Homo sapiens: one gene and its partners. The protein of the gene in region 1 interacts with the protein of each later gene in a biochemical or structural test. Each region holds a gene or a part of one and is shown on either strand. Other genes may lie near its edges.

The links.
Region 2: the proteins of MET (region 1) and LYN form a complex in vitro, tested with the Homo sapiens proteins (one large-scale study listed by BioGRID and IntAct).
Region 3: the proteins of MET (region 1) and ZAP70 form a complex in vitro, tested with the Homo sapiens proteins (one large-scale study listed by BioGRID and IntAct).
Region 4: the proteins of MET (region 1) and ITGB1 interact in far-western blotting, tested with the Homo sapiens proteins (one study listed by BioGRID).
Region 5: the proteins of MET (region 1) and SH2B1 form a complex in vitro, tested with the Homo sapiens proteins (one large-scale study listed by BioGRID and IntAct).
Region 6: the proteins of MET (region 1) and NCK1 form a complex in vitro, tested with the Homo sapiens proteins (one large-scale study listed by BioGRID and IntAct).
Region 7: the proteins of MET (region 1) and CRK form a complex in vitro, tested with the Homo sapiens proteins (one large-scale study listed by BioGRID and IntAct).

The regions. Positions count from the first base shown.
Region 1 is NC_000007.14:116,755,646-116,759,825, reverse strand, and holds part of MET (hepatocyte growth factor receptor isoform b preproprotein), read right to left. Parts: intron 2,390-4,180; coding exon 2,287-2,389; intron 2,189-2,286; coding exon 2,052-2,188; intron 1,368-2,051; coding exon 1,206-1,367; intron 490-1,205; coding exon of another isoform or gene 436-489; coding exon 336-435; intron 1-335. UniProt on the Homo sapiens protein: Receptor tyrosine kinase that transduces signals from the extracellular matrix into the cytoplasm by binding to hepatocyte growth factor/HGF ligand. Regulates many physiological processes including proliferation, scattering, morphogenesis and survival.
Region 2 is NC_000008.11:55,997,953-56,002,132, forward strand, and holds part of LYN (tyrosine-protein kinase Lyn), read left to right. Parts: intron 1-393; coding exon 394-547; intron 548-1,465; coding exon 1,466-1,597; intron 1,598-4,180. UniProt on the Homo sapiens protein: Non-receptor tyrosine-protein kinase that transmits signals from cell surface receptors and plays an important role in the regulation of innate and adaptive immune responses, hematopoiesis, responses to growth factors and cytokines, integrin signaling, but also responses to DNA damage and genotoxic agents.
Region 3 is NC_000002.12:97,733,396-97,737,575, reverse strand, and holds part of ZAP70 (tyrosine-protein kinase ZAP-70), read right to left. Parts: exon of another isoform or gene 4,033-4,180; coding exon 3,981-4,032; exon of another isoform or gene 3,057-3,980; coding exon 2,864-3,056; intron 2,327-2,863; coding exon 2,120-2,326; intron 104-2,119; coding exon 1-103. UniProt on the Homo sapiens protein: Tyrosine kinase that plays an essential role in regulation of the adaptive immune response. Regulates motility, adhesion and cytokine expression of mature T-cells, as well as thymocyte development.
Region 4 is NC_000010.11:32,947,912-32,952,091, forward strand, and holds part of ITGB1 (integrin beta-1 isoform 1A precursor), read right to left. Parts: intron 1-4,180.
Region 5 is NC_000016.10:28,869,975-28,874,154, reverse strand, and holds part of SH2B1 (SH2B adapter protein 1), read right to left. Parts: intron 2,376-4,180; coding exon 2,172-2,375; intron 1,966-2,171; coding exon 1,754-1,965; intron 1,622-1,753; coding exon 1,450-1,621; coding exon of another isoform or gene 1,397-1,449; intron 986-1,396; coding exon of another isoform or gene 886-985; intron 709-885; coding exon 335-708; 3' UTR 1-334. UniProt on the Homo sapiens protein: Adapter protein for several members of the tyrosine kinase receptor family.
Region 6 is NC_000003.12:136,868,398-136,872,577, reverse strand, and holds part of NCK1 (SH2/SH3 adapter protein NCK1), read right to left. Parts: intron 1-4,180. UniProt on the Homo sapiens protein: Adapter protein which associates with tyrosine-phosphorylated growth factor receptors, such as KDR and PDGFRB, or their cellular substrates. Maintains low levels of EIF2S1 phosphorylation by promoting its dephosphorylation by PP1.
Region 7 is NC_000017.11:1,446,066-1,450,245, forward strand, and holds part of CRK (adapter molecule crk), read right to left. Parts: intron 1-4,180. UniProt on the Homo sapiens protein: Involved in cell branching and adhesion mediated by BCAR1-CRK-RAPGEF1 signaling and activation of RAP1.

The DNA of each region.
Region 1 (4,180 bases):
CAGCCTGGATGACAGGGTGAGATACTGTCTCAAAAAAACCCTCAAAACCAACCAACCAACAAACATAAAAAAACACTGTCTCAAATTGGTAATCTTCATTCTTGTCTAAACATTATATGTGCATGTGTGTATGTGTATGTATTTTTTCCACATGGTTAGCCCAAGACTCTAGATAATTTCAGTTATTAAATAAAAAATACTACTTGGCTACACTGCAAGGAAATTAACTAGCAAACCTTAAAGGCGAAACTGAGATGTCTCAGGTACCATGAAAGCCACATGGTTAGAGGCAAAGATGCAGAGCTCTGAGTAGAACCATTGCTCAAAGGACTTACCACTGTAAAGTTCCTTCCTGCTTCATGCACATTTATGACCATTCTCGGGACACTAACTGAATTCAGGTTTTTCCCAACACCTGTTATTGTGCTCCCACCACTGGCAAAGCAAAATAGAAAACTGACAATGTTGAGAGGTTCTTTCCACCAAGTACTGTAAGAGAGGGATTCAATTTAATCACCTGCACTGATTACAGGTCAGAGGCACAGTCAACATCAAATGGAAGTTCATGGGTAACTGTTCTTTGGAAACAACTTATTTAACTTGAAAATATTTTTAAAATGCATATTTCATAAGCTTAAGAAATGCATTTGTATTTTATTCACCGAATTACACAAAATAAATATTTCACCTCTGAAAAAAATACAAAGAAAACCGAACTTAACTATTGTTGCTAGACTGATAGAATTAACGGAAACAAGGCAGATTGAACTGGGTCCAATGAGATATCAATTCAAAGAGAGTCTGGCATAAAGAAAAGCTGTGTGTAAAGCAGGCAGGACAAAAACATATCTAGAGAATGGAAGAAAAAAGGTAATTCCACTTCTGGGCACTAAGGTTAGTATAGAATTGATATGTACATAATGTAAGTGCATGTATACTACAATGCCACATTAAACTATTTTGCTATACTCTGTTTAAATGTAATAGAACAGGATAAGATACTTCTTGGAATGAACTAGCATTGATAAGTCAAACTACACTCAGAACCTGAATATAGTTTTCTCTCCTGAATTGGAAAGAAGCCTTCAAAAGCAACATAACAGCATCAAAGCCAGAGATAAAACTGCAATTCCTCTTGACTATTCTACAGCAAAATCATCCTTGTATTCATTGTTTTCTTATACCCATCAGAAGCTTCTACTTACCTAATAAAAGATTTGGTTGGATGAATTTCATAGACAATGGGATCTTCACGGTAACTGAAGATGCTTGTCTCTCGGTTGGCTAAGTCAATTTTCAATTTAACAGCAAACTCAGTTGAAATGGTTTGGGCTGGGGTATAACATTCAAGAATACTGTTTGACACACTGAACAAAAAAAATTAAGGAAGTGAATTTTAGCTATTAGAGATACACATATTTTAGAATTATATCCACAAATCAAAAGGATATAACTCAATGGTTCCTAAGTGGGAATTTCCTGAGTGGAAGCCTTTTCTAGTGTAGGCTGTTTAATCTGACTGGATCTCAAACTTACCTTTGTTGTGGACAAGCTATCCTTGACTGGAAAACATTTGAGATTTGAAAAAAAAACCTTTAAAGTACTTTTGGTACTTGATTAAACTGAGCTCTTCCAACTCTAAGAAGCAGAAACATAACTGTCTTCCAGACCCAATTTTCCCCATTTCTTCCTTCCCCAGAGTGACTTAGTCTAATTACAAATCTTGATGAAAATGTTTATTTTAAATTATTATCAATGACCAGACTCTCACAGCTCATAGTATAGCTAAGATCCTAAGCTATAACAATAAAGAGGGTGGATGGGAAGACAAAACTGAAAAGTAGGATTGCTAAAAAACAAGAGAAAGGAAGAAAAATCAGCAAAAGGAGTAGATGAATTTTGGAAGGAGGAAGTTTTGTCAGTAGGAGAGTAAACAAATAAACATCTTGATTTTTCTTCTCCACACACACACACAAAACAATCTGCTTAATTTTTAAGGTACAGATATTAATTCAAATTGACAGATGCAACAAAAAATAAATTTACAACACCTTTTTAAAGTACATGTTTTTCCACCAATTGAAATGTGTCTAGAATTCCCACTGTTTAGGTAATTTCCAGTTAAAGTAAGTAAAGTGCCACCAGCCATAGGACCGTATTTCGGCGAAATACTTGTTATTACAGGATCCTGGAGGGGAGATAAAAACAAAACAAAGTAACTTGTTCATCTTATAATTTAAATAGATTAAGTAAAAATCAAACATGATAGGATAGAATCTTCCTTACCACATAGGAGAATGTACTGTATTGTGTTGTCCCGTGGCCATTTGAAATAATTATGGACATATTGAAATGCTTATTCATGGCAGGACCAACTGTGCATTTCAATCTGGAAAAAAAACCCAAAGTTTAATACATGACAAATCCAAGGAATTTTCTGGTTAGGTTGTTTTATAGGAAGTGACATTAACTCTAAATGGTGAGCTGACTGCTTTGAATAGCAAGCAGAGTTTCAAGATAAGCATTAAGGCCAAAAATTATATAATCCTATTTCTATACTATGATAAACTTAACTTTTATTTTTATGTAAAAAGAGACAGGATCTTGCTCTGTCACCCAGGCTGGAGGGCAGTGGCATAGTCATAGCTCACTGCAGCCTTGAACTCCTGGGCTCAAGGGATCCTCTGGACTCAGGAGTTGGAACTAGAGGTGCATGCCACGGCATCTGGTTAATTAAAAAAAAATTTTTTTTTTTTTTTGGTAGAGATGGAGTCTCACTACGTTGCCCAGGCTGGTCTTGAATTCCTGGGCTCAGGTGATCCTCCTGCCTTGGTCTGCCAAAGTGCTGGGATCACAGGCGTAAGCCACTGCACCCTGCTTATACTAAACTTTACATTAATGGTACTATAGCACTTATACAGACAAACAGGAAATATCAGACCTTATCCATAAAGACCTCACCAGTTGAATAGTGCATAATAATCTAAGTTTGGATAATATTAATATTTGGGGATAATCTTTGGTCCACTTCAGATGCATATGAAACAATGGGCTAACTACAAATAGGCCAATCTCTTCATTAAAGTATGTCAACAGGTACATTTCTGTGGTTATACTTGTACATGCTTATTTAAATTACTTAAATGATAATGAAATTGTGATGGCTTTCCATAGAATTATTTCTGAATGAATAATCATATAGTTCTGAGAAAATTTAAATACAATTTGATTTATTAAATAACTTTTTAAAGGAGAGAATGAATTATGCTTTACTTTTACAGGTCCTGATTTATATGCAATGATTAAGAGTTTTGGAGATTTTACAAGGGAGATTTCTAGAAAAAATTTGTTTTGCCATTCAGCTAACAAATATTACCTTCATTAGTGTTTTGGTCTCAGTAAAATGGATAGATTCGGACCTTTGTGTAACCCTGAAATGAATTCTATTAGATATAAAATAACCACCTGATAGAATGGGTTCAATCATAAAGATTCAACCATAAAACTTTAAATATTTGAGTGTTGTTATTATGTGATAATGAATAATTTCTGGATTCTCTGATGATTATGGAATTCAAAGCTTGTAGAAGGGTACATGTAGAATACAGTAGAACTAGCACGGGTCTTGGATCAGAAGATGATCAGAGCTGAGCTGAAGGCTTGTTCAGCTCTTACTCTCTGGATTACCTCTGTGAAGCCACACTTCATCTCTCTGAACTTCAGGTACCTCTTTTATATTATAGGAATGATACTGCTCCCTCCCAGGACCGTGGGGATGGTTCAGTGAGATACAGCCCATATATTGCAGTGCCAGTAAATATAAGCTGAATATAAATTTTAACTCATCTAAAAAAGTCTCAAACACGTGATTCAGCTGCCTCACTACATTTCTGAGGTTTAGAAAGTGAATTTAAAAGAGAGGATCCATGCTGAGCTGTTTACTGATTTCTGTAGAAAAAGCCTTTGGAGACTCTACATTTGAAGACTCCAAGGATGAAGTGATCCCAACTAGTGCTACTCTTGCAAATCTACTCAGACAACACCTGAAGACTTGTCGCATAAATGGTTGAGAAACTCCCATTTCTGGCCTCTTCTCTTCACCTAGGCCATGTCACCTTTCTCTCTCTTCAAATCCAATGAGTAAATGGGATTACAAGAACAAAACAGAACAGACCCACAA
Region 2 (4,180 bases), on another chromosome or scaffold:
GGGTGCCTGTAGTCCCAGCTACTCGGGAGGCTGAGGCAGGAGAATGGTGTGAACCCAGGAGGTGGAGCTTGCAGTGAGCCAAGATAGCGCCACTGCACTCCGGCCTGGGTGAAAGAGCGAGACTCCGTCTCAAGAAAAAAAAAGAAAATGTTAAGACATGTTCCTTTTTTTTTTTTTAAGATGACCATTGTTGGAGATTTGGCAGAGGGTGGTCAGTTATTTTAGAAAGGGCTCAAATGGTGATTGCCATTACCCACTGTCTTTAAAAGCTGAATGATCAAAATAGTATACATGAAAAGATTTCAGGAATTCATAAGTTTTCCGGTTTTCCTTGATGGCACTTTCCAGTCACCTACCCTACATATGAAAATGGGAGCCTATTTCTGTTTTCAGATTGCAGAGGGAATGGCATACATCGAGCGGAAGAACTACATTCACCGGGACCTGCGAGCAGCTAATGTTCTGGTCTCCGAGTCACTCATGTGCAAAATTGCAGATTTTGGCCTTGCTAGAGTAATTGAAGATAATGAGTACACAGCAAGGGAAGGTATGTTGCACTAATGATCTTTAGATGTTTTATTATTGTGTTTTATTTTGTTTTTGTCTGTTTTTGACAAAGCAATTACAATAGTCACCATTAAGAAAAACTTATTTGGTACAACATTTAAGCTGTACCATAATTGTCTGCTTATGGTTCTATTCTAATAGTTTCTAGAAGGTACTCTCTTGATTAACTCCACATGATACTTTTGTTAGGCTTACAAATGCTATCAGTTGTATTTCAATTAAGCAATGCAAAACACAAATAGATTCAGCAAGATGATTCTTGTTTATTTTGTATTGTTAAAGTTTTCACTCAAACAATGAATATAATATACGGGGCTGTGGAGAAAATATTTGTAACATTAATTCTATATTGTTTATTCCAGCCTTTTAATTACAAATTAAAACATGAACATTACCATACACACAGAACTAAATATAATGCAAAAAATCTACTTCTTTATTTTCCCACATTCTGTATTATATATATGAACCAAAAATGCACAGAGAGGCCTAAGTTCCCCAGCCTGTGGCACATTGTCAGGGGGCCAAGCATGGTCGGGACTGCAGGGCCTTTCTTGGGCTAGGATTGCCCACGTGGTTATGACTGAGGATTCTTATGCTCTCACCCACGAGAGCTGAGCAAATATTTTTGCAGTGCTCACTGTCTTCTGGAAGAGACAAGCACTTTCTTGAAATTCCTAAGCATTGTTGAACAAGGATTATTATTATTTTATTATTTTGAACCTGGGAGGTGAAGGTTGCAGTGAGCCGAGATCGCATCATTACATTCCAGCCTGGGTGACAAGAGTGAAACTCCGCCTCAAAAAAAGAAAAGAAAAGAAAGTATGGGGTCACATGTTCATGACTTTTTTGTTTAAGTTTAAATACCCAAGTAAGAACCACATATCTTCTTCCTTAGGTGCTAAGTTCCCTATTAAGTGGACGGCTCCAGAAGCAATCAACTTTGGATGTTTCACTATTAAGTCTGATGTGTGGTCCTTTGGAATCCTCCTATACGAAATTGTCACCTATGGGAAAATTCCCTACCCAGGTATGGTTTACTTAGCTATTTACAATCAAGCTGTATAAATGAGAAAAAGTCAGGTTGCATGAAGGCATTAAAAAGTAATAATTACTTCATCTACCCGATAGCAAAGAATAAGTGCTTTGAGCCAGAACTTGATTTTCACGGGCTGGGCATGGTGGCTCACGCCTGTAATCCCAGCACTTTGGGAGGCCGAGGCAGGTGGATCACCTGAGGTCGGGAGTTGGAGACCAGACTGACCAACATGGAGAAACCCCGTCTCTACTAAAATTACAAAATTAGCCAGGCATGGTGACGCATGCCTGTAATCCCAGCTACTCGGGAGGCTGAGACAGGAGAATTGCTTGAACCCGGGAGGTGGAGGTTGCAGTGAGCTGAGATCGCGCCATTCCACTCCAGCCTACACGACAGAGTGAGACTCCATCTCGAAACAAAAAAAAGACTTGATTTTTATTTTCACTATCTTTAGCATAAATTGTTCTAAGAGTGCTTAGACACTTCTTTGCCTCCTTATTTTGAGTGTGTGTTCTTGTTCTGCACTGATTAATTCCACCACATACTAGAATGTTCCGGGCATGGTTGTTGGTGTCGAGATGAGGATGGATAGACACAGGGGCTCCTCCAAGGCAGTCCCCCTGACTGGAAGGAGGAAACCCACATGGAGACAAGGATTTCCGATGCTTGGTTTTGTAATAAGTGCCCTGGAGTCTCTCTCTCTTCAAGAAATAACCACCTTTGTTTATCAGTGGGAGGCCCTTCTGCTCTTTAACATACTGGTATCAGTGAGGGCATCATTCAGTATTTATTTCCAGATTCCTAACACCTGAAGCCTGCAGAGCCAGATTCTGACCATCCCTCCATTTTTCCATGGTCTGTGCTGGCATGGTTAAGAAGAGGGATTTCGGCCAGGTGCAGTGGCTTACACCTGTAATCCCAGCACTTTGGGAGGCTGAGGTGGGTGAATCACGAGGTCAGGAGTTCGAGACCAGCCTGGCCAACATGGTGAAACCCCGTCATTACTAAAAATACAAAAAATTAGCTGGGCGTAGTGGTGGGCATCTGTAATCCCACCTACTTGGGAGGCTGAGGCAGGAGAATCACTTCAACCTGGGAAGCACAGGTTGCAGTGAGCCGAGACTGCACCCCTGCACTCTAGCCATGGCGACAGAGTGAGACTCTGTCTCAAAAAAAAAAAAAAAAAAAAAAAAAAAAGAGGGATTTCTCCCAGAGCCTTCATATTTTCATTTATGTTTGACTATTAACAAAATATTTGCATGAGGGGAATTTAAAATTAAATTTTTAATGTTTAAATCTTTCTCCTATTCAAAAAATATTTGAGTATGCTAGGCACTCTCAGCTGCTAGGATGCCATGGTATCTGCCCATGTCCTTGAGAGTGAATATTGTAGTGGGGAGAGACTGATGTTTATCAAACACACAGCCATCCTGTAGGGTGGTGAGAGTAGTGTGGAGCCTGCGTGGAGTGGCTTAGGGATTGGCGAGTACTCACAGAAGGGGGTGGGGAGCTGCTGGTTTTATTCCATGGTCCTGGCAGCAGCAGGGACTCACAGAGGGAGGGAGTCTTGGGCTCTCTGAGGTCTGCATGTCCCCATGGGGAGAGCAGCCAGAGCATGGGCTTGGCCAACAGGAGCAGGAGGCCAGCGTGGTTTGGGCCTCTGTGAGTATTTGATGGATGGATGGGTGAATGAATGAATGAATGAATGACGCACCTAGGCCATTTGATCTCTAGACAGTCGATGGATGAGAAAGAAGGCTATGTAGCTGGGGGTTAGAGTGGCTCAGGGAGAGACTTACTGGCCATGTAAGAGCAGCCCCTCTTACTCTGCTGAGATGCAAACCAGGGAAGGCTTTTGGACAGAGCAGCCACACAGTCTGCGTGCTCCCATCACTACTGTTTCATGTGGGGATGAGCCACAGAGAAACTGGGGCAGGGACCAGTTGGCAGCTGAAAGCCTTTGGGTGGTGTCTGCCTGCACAGTGGACCGGCTGTCCCAGGAAATCCCTTTAGTGCCAGCATTTCATCTTCCAGCTGCTCTAGACACTGAGATTAATGAATTAACATTGCTGCAAAATAGGAAAAATATTTCTAATCAGCCCCAGTGTCTGATGTTATATATCTCTATCTCCATCTATGCCTACATCTCTTTCTATAATCTGTCTGTAGAGAAAGATTATATAGTCAGATTATGTATATAATCTGACACCTGATAAACATACAATCTCATAAAAGAATGTTTTGTGATATGCGTGGTGTGCTGCATGTGATGTGCTACCATGGCCCCTGAGGCTTGGAGAAGGTGATTGGGCCCCTCGCTGGTGGCAAAGCTGCTCTGAGCCCCAGATCCATGTGCCTCCCAAGACCCCTCAGCCAATGTGCACAATGCCCAGGATTTGGAAATATTTGGGGTGAAAAATCATTTTTTGAAAAAAGAACTGGCTGGGCACGGCAGCTCACACGTGTAATCCTAGCACTTTGGGAGGCTGAGGCAGGTGGATCACCTGAGGTCAGGAGTTCGAGACCAGCCTGGCCAACATGGCAAAACCCCATCTCTACTAAAAATATAAAAAT
Region 3 (4,180 bases), on another chromosome or scaffold:
GGCCGCCAGGTCACGGTGCACAAAGTTCTTCTCCTCCAGGTACTTCATCCCCATGGACACCTGGTGCAGCAGCTCGGCCACATTGCTCACAGGGATCTCCTCCCTGGGGTGGCGGGGAAGGCGGGGTCAGCTGGGAGAAGACTAGCCAAGTTCCCAGGGGCAAAGCATGCTTCTCTGACCCAGCTGGGCATGAGCCAGGTGACCATGTGTTCAAAAACGCTTATTGAGCACCTGCTGTGTGCCAGGCGTGGGGCTGGGGACACAGCAGTGAACAAAACAGGCAAAACTCCTGCCTTCATCCAGTCTCAAGGCTTTAGGGATCACCCACACGCTACGACTCCCAAGTCTAGACCTATGCCTGCACCCTCGACGTGCTGAGGTCTCACAGGCATCTCAAAGATAATGTGGCCTGATTGTCCCCATCCCCATGTGCACACACATATGGCTCCTCCACTGTCCTCTCCAGCAGCTCCTCTTTCTCTCACACCCAATCCATCAGCAAACCCTGGCAGTTCTGGTGTCAGAATCTCTCCAGAATCCACCGCACTCCTCATCTCTGCCTCTGCCACCGGGAAGCAGCCGCAGCATCACTCACCTGGACCCCCAGGCAGGAATAGTCAGCTCCGCCCAGGCCCTCGCTCCCTCCTGTCTCCCACTGTCTTGTCCTCTCTGCCCCTGAGTCAGGTCCTCCCCCTCCTCTGCTCACAGCACCCCCTAGCTCCCACCCAACTCAGGGTAAAACTCCAAGTCCTCCTGGCAGCCCGCAAGGCCTGGCACGGTCTGCTCATCCCCTCCCTGCCCGCACCACACGAGGCACGGGACCACCTCAGGGCCTCTGCACAGGCGGTGCCCTTTGCCTGGAATGCCCTTCCCCACGTCTGGGCATGGCGGCCTCCCTCAGTTTGTTCAAACCTCCCTGCTCACTGCACCTCGCACCCCAACACTCCCAACCCCCTGGAGCTGCGGCAGGCTTGTGCCCACCACACTATCTTCCCACATGCTCTAGATTTCATCAGGATTGTTACTTACTGTCTCTCTTCTCCAACCAGAATACAGAGCATGGATCTCTGCCTTGTTTATTCGCTAATGAATCCCAAGTGCTACTAACAGTTCCTGTCACTGAGAAACTGTCCAATAAACACCTGTCAAATGACTGAATGTGGGAGCCAGGGGCACACTGGGAAGGTGTGTGCACCAGCCAGAGGGCACAGATCAGCAAAAACGTGCCTTGGGGAGTGCAGAACTTGTGTCTGTGAGGGTAAGAGTTTGGGGATGAGGAACCACAAATGAAACTGCAAAACTTTTCAGTAAAGGGCCGGATAGTAAGGATTTTAGCCTTTACAGGCCACAAGTGATCTCTGTCACATCTTCGTTTTTGTTTCTTTAAAAAAAAAAAAATTAAAAATAGAAAACCACGCAGCACGTAAACAAAGGGCAGGTTCCAGATAACTGGCAATGGGCACTTTCCCAGGGGCCATGAATTTGGCCCAGGGAGTCTGGGGAGCAGCTGATGTGTACAAAGCTCTTACTAGCAGTGCCCTTTATTTATTTTTATTTATTTATTTTTTTGAGATGGAGTTTCGCTCTGTCCCCAGGCTGGAGTGCAGTGGCACAATCTCGGCTCACTGCAAGCTCCGCCTCGTGGGTTCAAGCGATTCTCCTGCCTCAGCCTCCTGAGTAGCTGGGAGGCGCCCACCACCACGCCCAGCTAATCTTTTGTATTTTTAGTAAGGACGGGGTTTCACCATGTTGGCCAGGATGGTCTGGATCTCTTGACCTCATGATCCACCCGCCTTGGCCTCCCAAAGTGCTGGAATTACAGGCATGAGCCACCGCACCCGGCCCTAGCAGTGCCCTTTATAGGTGCCGACTCATTCGATCCTCGCAAAGGCCCTGGAGGTAGACACTGTTATTACCGCACTGGTGCAATGGTGGACTGAGGGTTAGCTCTGCTTTGCAGGCATGGGTATGGGTGTGGGTGTGCAGGCTGAGAGTGTGTCCACGATGGTGTGGAAGTGCCCCGGCTTCCCACACACGCATGCACGCGGGTGCATGTCCACCATGCCCAGGATGGGCCCCGGCCCCACCCACCCGATGGCCGGGCCCACCCGGTGCTCACCTCTTGCCGACCAGGAACTTGTGCAGCGGCCCGCCCCCAGCCATCTCCATGACCAGCATGAGGGCCTCGGCCTGGCAGACGCCAATGAGCCGCACGATGTAGGGGTTGTCCAGCTGGTGCATGATCTGCGCCTCGCGCATCATCTCTTCCGTGTCTGCCTTCTCCGTGCCCTGCTTCAGCACCTTGATGGCCACGTCGATCTGCTTCCTGCCCGACCCGGCCACGGGAGGCACGTGGGCGAGGGGCACCGGCCCTGCTCGGCCCCACACCCCCACCCACCCATCTCTCTTCTCCCTTGAGTTGTGTGGTAGACAACTGTAGTCGCCACCCAGGCTGGGACCAAGGCGCTCAATGTCCCTGCAGCCTGGAGCGTCTGCTGAGGACGGCTCACAGCCGGATCGCTCACCGGGAACAGCCCATCGCCAAAAAGAATCCAAAGTGACACCCTCCCCAGGGGCAGCCTGTCAGGGGCCAGTGGACTCAGGGATCGGGGACCCCACTGCAGCTCCCCTGGGTTGGGAACTTCAGCTCCACAGCCTCCCCCTGCCCAGGCCCCATCCCACCCCCGTCAGGTGTCCCGAGCTCTCTCAGGGAATCCTCCAGCGTGCAACGTCCTGCCCCAGAGTCTGTTTCCCAGGCAAACTGCTGTGAGACAGACATCCCGGCTCCCGTCCCACAGCCCGGTGAAGCCACTCCCCTCTGCCCCAGGCGGCGGTGCTCCCACCACGGCAGGGGCGGCCATACTTGCGCATGCGGTACACGCCCTGGCGCACTGAGCCAAAGTTGCCGCAGCCAAGTTCAATGTCAGCTATGAGGAGGTTATCGCGCTTCAGGAAGAGCTTCTTGTCCTTGAGCTCCTCTGGGTCGCTGTAGGGGCTCTCATACACGCTCGTGTCCATGGGCATCGGCCGCGGTTTGTCTGGGGACGTTATGCGTGCTGGGCACACACAGCGGTACACTCCCAGGTCAGGGGCAGGGGTGTGGGGAGCAAGGCAGCCTCAGCCCCCACAAGCACCTGCCCCAGACAAGGGTGCCGTCCCTGGAGCATGCACAAGCAGGTGGGTGCCCATGCGTGTTCCTGCACATCCACACGCACACACTGGCATACACTCCTGGCCACAGCTGTGGGTGCCCCATGAAGCCACATGAGGGTGGACTCTAGGGGCGTGTGCATTGGTATCCACGTGGCACCGTTACTGTGCCAGCTGGGGTGTGCATGTGTGTGCATTCGTACGTGTACGCCTATGGCCGGGCCCGTCCCTGTCTGCGTATGCAGCACACAGCCACATTTACGAGGCCTCCAAAAGCGAGCCTCTAGGTGCACATGTAACTATGTGTCTTCTCTGTGCATACACATGTTCAGGTCTGGGCCCACCCATGAGAAACAGGAGCACCCGCAGCAGACCATTTTAGGAATGTGAGCTCTGGGGCCCATCGTGGGTTCACATCCCGCCTCTACCACTGCCTCACATCCCCATAGACAGACCCCTCCCTCTCTCATCTGTAAAGTGAGGTTAATCACCATAGCCACTTCATAAGGCATGTCAGGAGGGTTCGGTGGCTCATACACACAGTGACCTCGGAACGTGACTGACACATAGTAGGTACTCAACAAACGTGTGTCTGGGGAGCCTCAGGCAAGGCCAAGTGTGCTCCCTGCACGTCAGTACACACTGGGACGTACATGTGCACAGGCAGGTGTGATGGGTGTGGGCACATGTGTGCACAGGTGTTAACCAAGCCAACTGCCACAGCCTGGCCCGGCCCACAGCGCCCCCCGTGAAACCCCACAGCCCTGACAGCGACCCTGATCTCGGCTCAGCATGAGCCCCAACCCGCGTCCCCACCTCTGCCCGCTCACCTGGCTCAGGGGTGTATCCATCTGAGTTGAGGGTGTCGATTCGTCTCTGAGGCTAAAGGCCACAGGGTCAGCAAGGCCTGAGCTGGGGACGTCCAGCCCCTCTCATGAGACCTATATCCACTGAGGACTCCCAGAGACAGTGGAGAGAGAGCTTCTTCCGCTCCACAGGCACCCCAGCCTCCATCCCAGCCTCCCCCACA
Region 4 (4,180 bases), on another chromosome or scaffold:
TAAGTACCTGGGTGTTACTTGTTATGATCATTACCAAATGTTACAGGAAGCGCTCAATAACAACGTAATTGAATAAAGAAGTAACTATGGTTGAATTTTTTTTTTTTTTCAATTGTAATTATAACCAGAAAACTGACTGGATCCACTTTAGGGAAGACACAAGATATGAAAGAAAGGATAAAGTCTGAAAGTTAGAAGTAACACAACTACAGAAAATAGATTAATGTGGATTGTTATAGCTGTTCATACACTGACATCCTCAATATCAAAACCTTATTATACTCTTTATAGATTCCACATCCAAGTAGAATTCTATTTAATGTGCTTTCTAACAATCAGATTCCTGACAAATGTGTTCATAAAGTAATAAAAGCAGCAAAACCTTAAATATTTTATACTGACAAAATATTTAAGGTAGTAAATGTTAGACAAAATACAAATGCTCTGAACACTAATATCATAAAAACATAGTAGACAAAATACAAATGCTCTGAACACTGATATCACAGAAACCCTTAAAAAAAGATTGAGGGGAGGGAATAACATACCTAATACAAACAGAAATAAGGAGGAAGCTTTGAGGTTTGCTATGCTTTGAACGTGTCCCCAAGGTTCACGTGTTGGAAACTTAATCCCCAAAGCAACAGTGATGAGAGGTGGGACTTTTAAGAGGTGATAAGGTCATGAGGGCTCTGCCCACATGAATGGATTAATGCTATTACCACAGGAGTGGAGAATGGGTTCCAGATAAAAGACGGAGTTTGGCCTCCTTCTCTTCTCTCACTCTCTTGCCCTTCCACCTTCTACCATGGGATGATGCAACAGAAAGACATTAGATGCCAACCCCTTGATAATGGACTTCCCAGCCCCCAGAACCCTGACATAAATTACCCAGTCTGTGGCATTCTGTTATAGCAGCACAAAGACTAAGACAAGGTTCTTACATCACAAGGAAGCAAACCCCCCTGAAAGGACTAGAATACCAATTCTGTGTTTTATTAATCAAACCCAACTAGCAATATGATTTCGTTCAGGGACTGCTGCTCACTGTGGATTACTGAAAAAAAAAAAAAGACTGACTTCTCAATTGAGAGGGCCAGACTAGGCACAGGCAAGAAGAAGAGTATAATACACTAAGTTTTGATGATTTAAAGTAATTTGTAACAAAAAGTTATTTCATTTAGAACTTTAAAAAATTAGAATTTTATTTCAGCACCTTCAAATGGATATGATAATAATAATGATAAAATAATAGCATCTATCTCCTCCAGGTAACTCAATGAGGTGAAGAATAATAGTGTCTTTGTTTTACAGATGAGGAAACAAAACCAGAGAGACTAAACAACTTGCAATGGTGGAATCAAAAGTTGCACAGGTGGAATTGAAACCTGACCATCTGTATCCAGAAGCTATGACCTGACTTCATTAAACTGTAATTTTTTCAAAGCCTACTTAATCACTATTTTAAAACAAAGAACATCCTTCTAGTGTTAGAACTGACTCAGGGCACAGAAATGGAAAGGGCTTATAATGTTCTATGAGTTTATTTCTTGGGCATTTGAACTTAATAGAGGCCAAGAAAAGTTATTTTAATTGCCATATTTCATAAGTACAGACAAAGGTTTTGTGTCTTGTTCCTATAAAAGCATTTCACCTTAAGGTCATTTTTTACCATATGAAATTTTATCTAAGGGGTCATAATTCATTCCCTGAACAATAAACAATCTTAAACACCACCCACAAATAATCTCATTTTAGTGGTTAACCCAAATATGTGCAATTGTTTCCACTGTCAAAAATAGTGCATAATTGTTTTAATCTTCACTGTAAACTAATCTTTATCCATAAAAGTATGGTTTTATATCATGTTCAAACTTTTAAATACACACTCATTATTTATTAATTTTTTTAAACAATTTTACAAATAATTCATTTGGCATTTCCTTTTAAATTTACAATCTTTAGAAACTTTATATGGACTATCTTTGTAGAAATTAAACAACTACACTTTAGAAAAAAATTGTAACATATGTAACATATGTAACATGTTATGTTCATTTCAGAGTTGAAAAATAAGCCACCTAAAAGCCAACTCAAATAAAAAGAATACACAAAAGATTTCACAAAATCTCAAATCTTTTCACCTTAATAGTAGAAAAGATTCTGATACCTATAGAGGTATATCATAAATGTCTCCTAAAAATTATAATAAACTTGGATTCATCCCAAGTCTGTTCTACCATCATTATTTTCTGTATCTGCTTTTAAAAGGGGAAGAAATAGGCCAATAACAGATTTTAGTATTTAAAAATCAATATATTCCAGAAGAAGAACACAGAGCCAAATTGAAAGACATGAGGTTCCTCCCACTTATCCCACATAGAGAGTAATAAAAACGAGAAAAACATGAATGGAAGAAACTGAGAAATCTTTCTGAATTCTGTACCATCTGAGAGGGTGACATGTGGAGATGAGTTCCTCCCATGGAAAGGGAACCTTTCCCCTTACAGGAAGAACAATTAAAACTCAACACTTTTTTTCCTTCCATCTGGCAGGAAGAGGTGTGTTGGTCACTACAGAGGTGTTTATGGCCCAAATATTAATAAGCTAGCATTAATGATTAACAAAACTTCGCAGAAAGAATAGAGAAGAAAAAAAAGGAGACATGAAAGAGAAGAGGCTAAGGGATCCCAAAGATGTAACACCACATTTGAAGTCCTCTTCTCCTCTCCTTGACAAACAGAAAAGTAGTCTGAATTAGAAAACCATCTAAAATTCACCACTCCCACCCAGAAGAAAAATGGCTTTTTAAAGAGCACTAACCCCTTCTCACACAATGATAATGATAGCCTGGGCTAAGAAGCTCTAACAACAAAGGTTTGGCTGCTCCAAAGCTATAGGTTCACAAAACAATTTGAAATCTGAGAACAGCTCACAACACGGCGAGATACTTTAAGAAAATTATACAACAGATTGAAGATAAAATTCATCACTAGTGACTCTACCCGCCTTCTCCAGGAAAATGAAATATGGAAGATTTTTATCACCACCCAATCTACAAGTGCAAGGGAAAGATAAATAATGGATATAGTACGCATTGGCAAACAAAATGCCTAAAGATAATACGTTGGGGGTAGGGGGAGGTAAAGCCTGGAAACTTAACACCTAGGAAAGACTTCCACAGAACAAAAAGTGAAAGGAAGTCAGTGAAGAATCTTCTTTAAAAATAAGAGAAAATCTAGATCTCATTCTGCTCTTCAAGAAAGTCAGAAAATCTCAAATAGATCTTGACAGTGATCAAAGAGCAAAACCACAAAAGTCGAGGAAAAGTAAACAGAACTAAGGAAGAAAATTTAGGCTGGAATCCTCTACAGAACTCATAGACACCAAGAACAGAATCAACATAACAGGAAAATCACACAAAATTCAAATAATTCAAGCCAATGAGAAACGTTGTCTAATGGTGATCTCATAAACAGACAACTGGTACAGCACCACCACCACCACCAGCCCCTCCCTGTCCTGAAAAAAAAATAGCTTTATGTGAGAAACGGGAAAAAAATGAAGCATTTAATTCAAATGGGGGTAAAGGGGCACAAAATTAACTCAAGACTTCAGAGGATGAACGTAAAAGCAGAAAAATACACTATAAACAAAGCTATTAAGCCATAATATGAAGGGCTGATCCAAAATGAGCAAAAAACCTGCCCGAACTTAATTCTTCCCAGCTCCTCCTTCCACTCAAAAGGTAAGACATTATTACCTAGCAATTGATTGTTTTTCAAACCAGCCTAGTATGCTGTTCCTTCTTTCCACTCTCTATGCCTGCGGACTTTTTTGCCTTTCCCTGTGAGGAGGAAAGAAGTTGGGAACGGTTTTGGTTGAGAAAGTTTACTTTGGGGCAAGTTGTCAAAGATAATTGTGAGTGGAGCCAGCAAAAGAACCAGCATGATCAACGGTATCAATAAGCACCTGAGAGCAAGACTTATTCCCCGTAATTTCAATTAAGGAGAATTATCTTCTCAAACTGCGTAATTATATCCACTTTTTAAGCAGATCATTCCAAAATGCTTCCTTGATTAAAACTAATTTTGACCACATCTTTTGTCACATCTTCCTCTCCATCCTGTCTGTGGTGGAGTGCATACAGTATTTTAAATACATGATAAATGTTTTAAAA
Region 5 (4,180 bases), on another chromosome or scaffold:
CAACAACAACAACCACCTTAATGTAACTGACAGCCCTTCCCCCTCACCCTGCCTCGGGCTGGGGGTAGTTAATGGGGAAATGGCCCCCAGGGTGGGGCTGACCAGAAGAGCCCCTCAAGGAGCTCATGGAGCCCAAATCCCCTGCCCTGGGGAGGGGACCTGTAGTGTGTGACGGGAGCCTCTCCCGAGCCTCTGCTTGTACCATCAAAGATGCCCTTGGCCAACAAGGGTCAGGAAGCATGGGGGAGGGATTTCGGCCTCCTCTGTCCCTACCCAGCCCAATCTCACGAGCAGGGCTGGGGGGTTTAAAAAGGGTGGAGCGGGTGGGGTTGGCTCACACGAAGGAGTACTGGTTGTTAATGGCCCTGGGGTGGCCCCCTTCCTCTCCATCACCCCCTAGTGGTGACTGCTGCAGCTGCACCATTGGGGGCACCCCCGCGTCCCCACCAGACCCAGCGCCCTGGGCCTCTGAGCCTGGGGCTATGGCCTCTTCCAATTCAACCACGGGGACCAGCTCAACCACGGGGACCAGCTCTTCCGGGACCCCTCCACCGCCCGCTTTCTCTTTCTCTTGCCTCTCTTTGGCTGCTGCGGCTGCTGCTGCCGCCACTTCTGGCGCCCTCGACGCCTCTTCTGCCCCAGGCTGTGGGGGATCTGTCCATGAAGGGGGTTCAGGGGGCTGGGGTGGGTCATGGGAGGTGGTCGGTTCTGGATAGGAATGGTAAGAAAACAGACTGATTGTGGAGGCAGGTGAGCTCCTGCCGTGGCCTCCCCTTCACTCAGCCCCCCAGGAGCGTGGCTGTCTCCCCACATCCCATCTCCTGAGCAACCCCCCATCCATGGAAGATGGATCATGGGCGGTGGTGAGAGGAGGACCACACTTACACACAGTCACTCGCTCCGAAGGGCATGAGGGTGCAGGAGGCATCGGGGTGGCATCCATCTCCCTCGCACACCCCCGCATGGCTCCCAGCCTGCTCCCGGCCTGGGGGGAGGGGCAACGTGGGGACAGATGGGACGGTGGGGCAGGGGAAAGGGAGAGATCAGACAGGGACATGAGACATTGAGGGAGGAGGGAAGGGGATCAGACCGAGTGTCCCCGGGAAGGGCAGGCCCAAGGCCAGGCTGCGACGGAGGGCAAAGACGAGGCCAGGATGGGTCCAGGAGACAGACAGACAATGGAACAGAGGATCCGATGGAATGGGGATGCGCCCGCCCACCTCTCAGCTGCCGCCCCGGCTCCGGCCAGGAGCCTTCTGCCTTCCTGTGTCCTATCAGCGCATTTCTTTCCCTTCCAAACCCCGAGGCACAACAGCCTCCTCTACCCTGCTCTCCCAAGCAAAGCTTCTCCTTGTGATAGTCCCCCCTCCCCGCCCCATCTTTCTGGCACACACACCTCACTTCTTGGGTGCACGGGCACCTCCTCCCCTGCAGACCTGCTCTGCTCACCCTGCTGTCGCTGGGAGGATGGGACATAGCTGACAAGGACAACATCACTGGAGCCTCCCGACTCCAAAGGGATGGGGTGCACCCGGAAGTGCTCGAGCATATCGAAAATGGACTGGAACCACAGGTGCTGGACCCGGCACTGACCCTCCTCGTTCAGCGACAAACGCAGGTGCTGAGGGCGGGATGGGGGAGGTGAGGTAGGAGGCAAAGGCCCTGCCAGGTACAAACCCCCTCCCCCGGCAGTGCTCCCCCACCCCACTGCCAACTATGCACAGAACAGAGCCTTTCCCACAGGGTGGCTCACCTTGGCCTTGCCCTGGAAGTTGAAGGTGAGGACGTATTCACCCCGCCTTGTCTCACTCTGGCGCACCAGGAAGACACCGTGGGAGCCAGTGCCGCCAGTCAGCACCAACTGTGCAGCCTTGAGCCGAGAGAGCATCCCGTGGAACCAAGGATACCCTGAGAGGGGCTGGTCCCCCTCACCGCCCTCTGGCTCCCCCTGGAACAGGAAGGACCCTTCAGGAAGGAGAGAGGGAGGGAAACCGGGGTGTCAGGGCAGCCTCCCCCATCCTGGGAGAAAAAAGCCTTGCCTTCCCCTCAAGGCGCCTGCTCCCCACATGCGTCCCCAACTCCCCTGGGCCAGCTCCCTCGGGATCCCAGGAGAGGTGGTCAGGAAGGTAGGCACCCAGGCCTGGAGACATGCACACTCACACCTCCGGTACCTGTGGCTGTTTCCGGAGTGTCCAAGGGAGGGTAGGGGGCTGAGAGGGGATGAACTGTCCCTGTTGGGGGTCCCTCTTCAATGGGGATGCGGGGGGGCAACTCTGGGGGAAGCAGTTCCATCGAGTCAAAATGGGAGGCGGCAATGGAGGCAGAGCTGGGGGAGATGGATGCCGAGGGGCGGTCTGAGAGGCCCCCATATGCCCCTGGAAAAAAAAAGGGCAAAGCTGAGAACCCAAGAAATTCCTCTTCTAAAGGACTGTCCTGGGCCCATCTCCTCACCAGCAGTCTACCCTGTGTGCAGTCGCTGGCCAAGATGCCAAACAGCTCTGTGGGTAGTGACCCCTGATGCTTTTACCAATGGCTCCTAACTGATGCTTCCTGCGCTGCTGAGGGACTGCAGAGTTATTGCAAGGAGGTTCTAAAGTCCCAATGTGTCTCCATCTTTTTCTGAATCAACAGCTGAAAGACTGTTGCAGAAACGGAGAGCAGAATGCCTTAAATATATATATACATGTTTTTGTAGAGAAGGGGTCTCGCTATATAATAGCCCAGGTTGGCCCTGAGTTCCTGGACTCAAGTGATCTGCCCACCTCAGCTCTGGGATTACAGGCGTGAGCCACCGTGCCCAGCTGCCTCAAATATTTTGACATTCAAAAGGAGTCCTGGGCCAGGCGCAGTGGCTCACACCTGTAATACCCGCACTTTGGGAGGTTGAGGCAGGAGGATCACTTGAGCTTAGGAGTTCGAGAGCAGCCTGGGCAACATGGTGAAACACCATCTCTACTAAAAATACAAAAATTAGCTGGACGTAGTGGTGCACACCTGTAATCCTAGCTACCTGGGAGGCTGAGGCAGAAGAATTGCTTGAACCCGGGAGGCAGAGGTTGCAGTGAGCCGAGATTGTTTCACTGCACTGCAGCCTGGGCGACAGAGCAAGCCTCTGTCTCAAAACACACACACACACACACACACACACACACACACACACGGAATTCTGGCTGCACACAGTGGCTCACGCCTGTAATCCCAGCCTTTTGGGAGGCTGAGGTGTGAGAATGACTTGAGCCCAGGAGTTCAAGACCAACTTGGGCAACATGGTGAGACCCCATCTCTTACAAAAAATAAAAAATTAGCTAGGTGTGGTGGTGGCACACGCCTGTGGTCCCAGCACCTTAAGCCGCTGACGCAGGAAGATGGCTTGAGCCAGGGAGGTCAAGGCTGCAGGAAGCTGTGACTGCACCACTGCACTCCAGCCTGGGAGACATAACAAGACCCTATCTCAAAAACAAAAACACAAACAATAATTTTTTAAAAATAAAAAAATTAAACACACAAACAAAAAAAAAAAGGTGTCCTTTGTTGAACTATAGGACAAAGCCCCTAACTCTTAAGAGGCATCAAAGATGCTCCTTCTATTACTCCCCCAACCCACACCAACTTGAGCTTTACCTTACCTTGTATTCATGTCTCTTCCACTTTAACCCAATTTCCCATCCAATTTGTCCCCATATCCTGGGCCCTCCCCGCAGGTCTCTGCTCTTGCCCTTCACGTCCCCAGGCATGTCCTCTCCTCTCCTCGGCGTCGCAGTCCCTGTCTCTCCCACCTTCCCCTGCTCTCTTCCTCCTGAGCTCCCAACGTGATTCCTGCTTGTGCTGCTCAGGGGACACTAAGCTTTCTATAGGGAGTGATGTCAACCCAGCTGAAAGCCTCTAGAGAACAAGGAGCTCATCTCAGGCATCCTAGCTACCCCATCCTGGCCCGGGACACAGAGCAGGGCCAGGTATGCACTAGGGCCATCCTCCAAGTCTGTCCAACAGCAGGCCACTGCCTACACAAATGTCATAGGCAGGCAGTGCTCAGAAGACAGGCGTGTGGTGCACAGACAGCATGGCTTGGGAAACAGGGTGGCGCAGCCCCTGTCTTCCTCAGTGACCCTCAGGTGTCCTCTCCCTGGTCTTAGCTACTAAGATCTGATGAGATGCAAGGTCCACTCTAGATCTAAGATTC
Region 6 (4,180 bases), on another chromosome or scaffold:
AGCTCCTCATTACCTATGCAAATTTCTGTAGCCAGCTTGAATTTCTCCTCAGAAAAGGGGATTTTCTTTTCTATCACGCTGTCAAGCTGCAAATTTTCCAAACTTATGCTCTGCCTCCCTTGTAAAACTGAATGCCTTTAACAGCACCCAAGTCACTTCTTGAATGCTTTGCTGCTTAGAAATTTTTTCTACCAGACACCCTAAATCATCTCTCCCAAGTTCAAAGTTCCACAGATCTCTAGGGCAGGGGCAAAATGTTGCCAGTTTCTTTGCTAAAACATAACAAGAGTCACCTTTGCTCCAGTTCCCAACAAGTTCCCCATCTCCATCTGAAACCACCTCAGCCTGGACTTTATGGTCCATATCGCAATCAGCATTTTGGGCAAAGTCATTCAACAAGTCTAGAAAGTTCCAAACTTTCCCACATTTTCCTGTCCTCTTCTGATCCCTTCAAACTGTTCCAACCTCTGCCTGTTACCCAGTTCCAAAGTTGCTTCCACATTTTCGGGTATCTTTTCAGGAGCACTCTACTCTACTGGTACCAATTTACTGTATTAATCTGTTTTCATGCTGCTGATAAAGACATACCTGAGACTGGGCAATTTACAAAATAAAGAGGTTTAATGGGCTTACAGTTCCACATGGCAGGAGAGGCCTCACAATCATGGCACAAGGTTAAAGGCATGTCTTCTCACATGGCGGCAGATAAGAGAAGAGAGTTTGTGCAGGGAAACTCCCGTTTTTAAAACCATCAGATCCCACAAGACCTATTCACTATCACAAGAACAGCACGAGAAAGGCCCACCCCCATGGTTCAATTACCTCCCACCAGGTTCTGCCAACCACACGTGGGAATTGTGGGAGTAACAATTCAAGATGAGATTTGAGTGGGGACACAGCCAAACCATATCAGTTACATTTATATAAAGTTCAAAAACAGGCAAAAATAGTTTATGGCGATAGAGGACAGAATAGTGATTACCTTTGAGAGGGAAAGAGACACTGATTGGAGGGGGCGCAAGAGAGCCTTTTCGAACACTAAAAATGTTCCACATCTGGATTTGAGTGATGACTACACAGATATCTACAAATATAAACATTCTATACATTTAAATTTGTGCAGTTTTCAATAAACATTTAAAGATACTTTCTCTAAACAAATTTTTAATTTTGTTTTTTTTAGACAGCGTCTCGCTCTGTCCCCCAAGCTAGAGTACAGTGGCGCGATCATAGCTCACTGCAGCCTCGACCTCTTGGACTCAAGCAATCCTCCCGCCAGCCTTGCAAGTAGCTAGGACTACAGACGCTCACAGCCAAACCTGGCTAATTTTTTTTTTTTACTTTTGTAAAGGCCGGCTCTTGCTATATTGCCCAGGCTGATCTCTAACTCCTACCCTCAAGGCATCCTCCCACCTCAGCCTCCCAAAGTGCAGGATTACAAGCATAAGCCACCATGCCCAGACTAAACAATTTTTTAAAAAAAAATTAGTAAGCTTTTTAGTTGGATCCACAACAGGAATTAATCAAAAGGAAAAAAAATGTAAAGCCTTATACACAAAGATCTTTATTGCAGAATTTACAATAGCAAAACACATACACACACCTGGAAATAACATTTAATAAATGAATGCCATGCCAACCCTGGATTTCTCTGGTGTGAGAGAAATTAATATTTGGCATCTGTCTGATACTAGTAGCCAAACTTAATGCTGATTAACCTAAAGGAGCCATCTGCCCTGAGGAAGAGCATGATCACAGACACCAAAGCAAAAAAGGGCTAAGCTATTCAAGGCTGAAAGAGGAAAGAGACAAAAGCAAGAGATGAAGTGAGACGTAGACAAAAGCCAAATCATGCAAGACCTCACAGGCCTTTTTTTTTTTTTTTTTTTTAAAGACTATAGCTAAGAAATGAAAAGAAAAAATAAAGTAACTGATTTCCTTGGGCAGCAGAATTACTGGGAGACAGGGGTTGTACACTAAATATTCTAAATGTTTCTAAAAATGAAAATATATTATTCAAGAGCATGTAGTACTTGCAAATGATCAAGCATTTCCAAAAAAAACTGCCCAGCCCTATTAAATTTATAAAATATTTCTGCGATACAGCTGGAATAATTACAAGGTACACAACATATTACAGTATTTGTTGTATCTATTATTTGAATTGATCTACACACTAACATATGAAAATACGTGCTAAAATTTTTGGAAGAAAAGGATGAATTTTTTTTTTTTTGAGATTAAGTCTCTCCTTGTCACCCAGGCTGGAGTGCAGTGGCATGATCTCGGCTCACTGCAACCTCTGGCTCCTGGGTTCAAATGATTCTCCTGCAGCAGCCTCCCAAGTAGCTGGGATTACAGGCATGCACCACCACGCCCAGCTAAATTTTGTATTATTAGTAGAGACAGGGTTTCACCATGTTGGCCAGGCTGGTCTCGAACTCCTGACCTCAAGCGATCCACCTGCCTCGGCCTCCCAATGGGATTACAGGCATGAGCCACTGCGCTGGGCCAGGATGATTCTTTTAAAAAAAAAAAAAAAAAAAAAACTTTTGAGAAACATCCATTCTTTTAAATATTTCCACATATTTTCACTGCTTGTTTTATTCAACTGGCTGTTTGAACAAAAGCAAAAATTATCCATACCATATTCATGTCCAATTCAGCAATCATTACTTACAATTTCAGGAATAGAAACAAGAGAATCAGTGTTTTAACAGGTTTTTTTAACTGATAATTTAAACAAATAGAAAAAGCAACTATTAACAACCAAAAAATAAATGAAAAACAGACCAAGAGAATAAGCATTCCTTTCCCTCCACAGAGAGATTTTACCTGATAGTCTTCTATGCTGTCTTACAGCATTCAACTATTGTTACGTACACATAAGAAAAATACGAAAGCAACCATACATGGTTTCTGTTACAGAAACTTTAGAGTTAAGAGGAAAAATAAACATGAAGAACAAACATATAAAAGCACTCTAACTCACCAAATGGAACAAATGATTTTTCTTTCTTTCTTTTTTTTCTTTTGAGACAATCTCGCTCTGTCACCCAGGCTAAAGTGCAGTGGCGGGATCTCACAACCCCGCAACCCCTGCCTCCCGGGTTTAAGTGATTCTCCTGTCTCAACCTCTTGAGTAGCTGAGATTACAGGCATTCGCCATCACACTCAGCTAATTTTTGTATTTAGTAGAGACAGGGTTTCACCATGTTGGCCAAGCTGGTCTCGAACTCCTGGGATCAAGTTATCCGCCCACCTCAGCCTCCCAAAGCGCTGGGATTACAGGAGTGAGCCATCAGGCCTAGCGGAACAAATAAAATTTTTTTTTTTTTGAGACAGAGTCTTGCTCTGTTACCCAGGCCGGAGTGGAATGGCATGATCTTGGCTCACTGTAACCTCTGCCTCTGGGGTTCAAGCCATTCTCCTGCCTCTGCCTCCCGGGTAGCTGGGACTACAGGCATGCACCACCACAGTGGGCTCATTTTTTTATATCTTTAGTAGAGATGGGGTTTCACCATGCCGGCCAGGCTGGTCTCAAACTCCTGGACTCAGGGGCTCCGCATGCCTCAGCCTCCCAAAGTGCTGGGATTACAGACGTGAGCCACCGCGCCCGGCCTCAACAAGATATTTTGTCTTGTCTTGCTCAACAAGAAGTGATGGTTCCTGACAGATGAACAAGAGGACAAAAAGTAGCAAAATGTGAAGGTGTTACAGTTCTAACACTCAAAAGAGAAAAAGAACATTACAGCTAGATCACTGCATTTAGTTATATGATAAGCCCTCCAGGTTTCCTCTAAATCATTACATTGTTCTGTATCCACATTCAAGGCCTCCAAAGATTAATTGGCATTATCAAGAGATTCGAAAAGACAAACTAAATTGCAGCAGTAAAACCTGTAAGAGATTCATTTTTTAGCAGATGATAGAATTCAATGGTAAACACTGGCCAGGTGCGGTGGCTCATCCCTGTAATCCCAGCACTTTGGGAGGCCAAAGCAGGCTGATTAACTGAAGTTAGGAGTTGGAGATCAGCCTGGCCAACATGGTGAAACCCTGTCTCTGCTAAAAATACAAAAATTAGCCAGGCATGGTGGCAGGCACCTGTAATTCCAGCTACTTAGGAGGCTGAGGCAGGAGAATCCCTTGAACCTGGGATGCAGAGGGTACAGTGATC
Region 7 (4,180 bases), on another chromosome or scaffold:
TATTATCTTAATAAGCCTAACTCTGAAGTGATGGAAAGAAGCTAAGCACAATGCCTTCCTAGACTGGAGAAGCTCAGAGAAGTTCACAGCATTGTTGGAGATAACACAGCAAGCACAGTGTGGCTGGTGAACAAGGAGAAAGCGGCACGTCTTAGGAAGACAACCTCCCACCCGGCTTTCACCTTCACCTGGATCTATGTTCCTGCTAAAGACAGTTGGAATAACGCACTGTGTCCTGAGATACAACAGAATCGCCATGAGCAACTACGACCATCTGTGAACACTTCCAAGGTACTCTCTCCACTGGAAGAAGGAAGGTAACCACCCCCTGCCAGCCACTGTTACCATAGCAGGCCGAGCGAAATACATTTTGGCGGGGAAAGAACAAATGAGACTACTAAGCCAAGTCGCTCTGAAAGATGAGTGAGAGAAAACTTGGCAGATCATCTGGCGCAAAGGTAGGAAGCAGGTTTAATTCTCTTCTTGGTCAAATGCCACAATAGCGTGAACTGGGCTCACTATGACTTTTTTTTTTTTTTTTTTTGAGGCGGAGTCTCGCTCTTTCGCCTAGGCTGGACTGCAGTGGCGCCATCTCGGCTCACTGCAAGCTCCGCTTCCTGGGTTCACGCCATTCTCCTGCCTCAGCCTCCCGAGCAGCTGGGACTACAGGTGCCCGCCACCACGCCCGGGTTTTTTTTTCTGTATTTCTAGTAGAGACGGGGTTTCACCGTGTTAACCAGGATGGTCTCGATCTCCTGACCTCGTGATCCGCCCGCCTCGGCCTCCCAAAGTGCTGGGATTACAGGCGTGAGCCACCACGCCCGGCCGTGACTTTCTTTTTGTTTGGCAATCCCAATAGACACAGAAACGTAAGCAAAACGCCACGGAAAACCTTTGATGTACTTTACTTATAAATTATTTTTCTATTCTGACACTGTAATAATTTCACAGAGAAATGCCCGTTTCTGTGAACTGCTGGGGGCCATCAAGCTTCATTGATCCAAACTCCAGAAGGAAGGGAGGAGAACAGAACACACATAAGTCCCAGATAAGCCCAAACCTCACCATGGCTGTGTGTTCCGGCTCCTTTTCTCTCTTTCCTCTCCTTCCAACCACAAACAGCCAAAGGCAGGAAATAGAAGGGCGGGAAAGGAAGGAGGCACAGTCAGCCAGTCTAGAGAACAGAAGCAACGACAGGATTCTCATAGCTATCTGGGACTTGGAAAACCTCAATGACTTGTTCTACATCACCCTGTGCTGGATTCTGAACGTGGAGTTAGGAAGTCACACAAACGGAAATCAAAATCAATGCAAGGAGAGGATATCCTTTCAGCTTCTCGGTACCTGCTCAGCCCGTTACTTCTAAGCCTTCCAAGCATTTCAAGCCTCAGGTTACGACCATTTTTACAAGGCCACTCCCTCCCTGAAGGTTTCATGAAGAACACCTGAGGGCTCTGTGGGCTAAAATAGGCCCAATCACTTCTGACGGGTCTACAAGAGCGGGCCAGGCTCTCCTTGATCTCACAGCACTTTCTCTTTTCCTTTTTTTTTTTTTTTTTTTGAGACGGAGTCTCCCTCTGTTGCCCAGGCTGGAGTACAGTGGTGCGATCTCAGCTCACTGCAACCTCTGCCTCCTGCCTCCTGGGTTCAAGCAATTCTCCCTTCCTTAGCCTCTCGAGTAGCTGGGATTACAGGCGCCCACCACCACACCTGGCTAATTCTTGTATTTTTAGGAAAGACAGGGTTTTGCCATGTTGGCCAGGCTGGTCTCGAACTCCTGACCTCAAGTGATCAGCCAGCCTCAGCCTCCCAAAGTGCTGGGATTACAGGCGCGAGCCACCACACCCGGCCCTCTTTTCCCTTTTTTCCTCAATTCTTGCTCCCTCCCTTCCTTCTCTGCCTGTGGTATTTACAGGGGTTGCTTAGATAAATACCCACCAATACAAAACGCTAAAAAGGCCACTGGCTCGGGAGGCTGAGGCAGGAGAATCGCTTGAACCCGGGAGGCGGAACTTGCAGTGAGCAGAGATCGCGCCACTGCACTCCAGCCTGGGCGACAGAAGGCCACTGGTTTCCATCTGAGAAGATATATGGTCTCCTAAGCAAATAGAATGTTCTAAAGATGGTGGGTATGAGGACGGTCCTTTGCAGGTTTGGTGCATTGTGGCTCTCATTTTCTAGCTGTCTGAGTTACCTAACTTCTGTGTGCCTCACCCCCGACTCTGCAAAATGGGGTCAAATACCTATCTAATAAATAAAGTTCCTAAAGTGGCTAGAGGCTGGGCGTGGGGGTTCACGCCTGTAATCCCAGTACTTTGGGTGGCAGAGCCAGGCAAATCACTGAGGTCAGGAGTTCAAGACCAGCCTGATCAACATGGTGAAACCCATCTCTACTAAAAATGCAAAAATTAGCTGGGCATGGTGGTGCACGCCTGTAGTCCCAGCTGCTGGGGAGGCTGAGGCAGGAGAACTGCCTGAACCTGGGAGGCAGAGCTTGCAGTGAGCCGAGAATATGCCATTGCACTCCAGCCTGGGTGAGAGCAAGACTCCATCTCAAAAAAAAAAAAAAAAAAAAAAGAAAAAGTGGCTCGTACATTATAGGTGCTCAATAAAAAGCAACCAATTCTCCAAATTCCTTCAGCAATTTTCAATTCATCCTCAAATCCAGAGCCCACTGGACCGTTTCCCAGAGAAAATTCCACAGGATCTCAAGATGCTTCTCAAAAGTTCTGTGGTCAGGCAGGTGCGGTGGCTCACACCTGTAATCTCAGCACTTTGGGAGGCTGAGGCAGGAGGATCTCTTTATTTTTTTCTCTATTTTTAAAAACTGATTAACCAATCTTTAGGGAGACATCTGTTGAGGCCAGGAGTGCAAGCCCAGCCTGGGTCATACAGTGAGGCTGTAGTGAGCTATGACGGAGCCACTGCACACCAGCCTGAGCAACAGGGCCATCAGCAGTCTCACGCTACCTCCAGAAGTGGCTTGGCCCAGCTGCCAGCCTGGCATGTAGCTCTTCACTACCTCGAGGGAGTATCACAAACTATTACCACCCTAGCTTCTGTCCCACGCCTTCAAAATGAAGCACGTTTTATGCCCCCCTCCACCCACTAGCGCAACAGGTCGGATGAGCAGGTAACAGGAGGCACCATCTTATTTCCAAGTGCTGGACCCGAGGTCCTTTCACACTTACGGATGCACTCCACCCAGGCACCTACTCCCCAAGACAAACTGTTTCACCAGTTCCTACCATCCACAGCATGAATTCCACAGCCTCTCAAAGATAAGAAGTTTTCCATTTTGCTTCAAAAGCCCCCACACCTCAGTTATGTTATTAAGATTCGTATACATGAAATGCTTATGGAGTACTTAGTATGCCAGTACTGAATATGGAGTATCATTCCAACAACCCTATGAGATCAGTATTACTATTTCCCTCCTTCACAGATGAGGAAACTGAAGCAGGGAAAAGTTAAACAATTTGCCCAAAGTTACACAAGCAGTAAGTGGTAGGTAAATAAGGCCCAACCCAGGATCCACAGCTCAAGCTTATAACGACTCTCCTAACTCACACTCCTTCAGCTGTGTCAACCTGAAAGGTTTAGCTGTTCAAGAGAAAAAAAACTAGTTTCTTGCAAGCATTCCAAGGAGGTCCATCTTGAAGCCCAACCTGACAGAATGTGACCAGTAGACTTGGCCAAGCCCTTCCTTATGGCCCCAGGGAACTCCCAAGCTATGGCACCACAGGAAGCCTATGCAAGCTGAGGACCCAAGACAAGTTAAAAACAGGTTCAACGGAAAAGGCTGAGAATCACTGGCCCATTCTGTACCCATGCCTTTAAAAATAATACCCAGCTGCGCACGGTGGCTCACGCCTGTAATCCTAACACTTTGGGAGGTCAAGGCAGGTGGATTACTTGAGGTCAGGAGATCGAGACCAGCCTGGCCAACATGGTGAAACCCCCATCTCTACTAAAAATACAAAAAAATTAGCTGGGAGTGGTGGCGCATGCCTGTAATCCCAGCTACCTACTCAAGAGGCTGAGGCAGGAGAATGGCTTGACCCGGGAGGGGGAGGTTGCAGTGAGCTGAGATCGTCCCACTGCACTCCAGCCTGGGCAACAGAGCAAGACTCTGTCTCAAAACATAAATAAAGTTTAAAAAATAAGGCGCGGTGGCTCA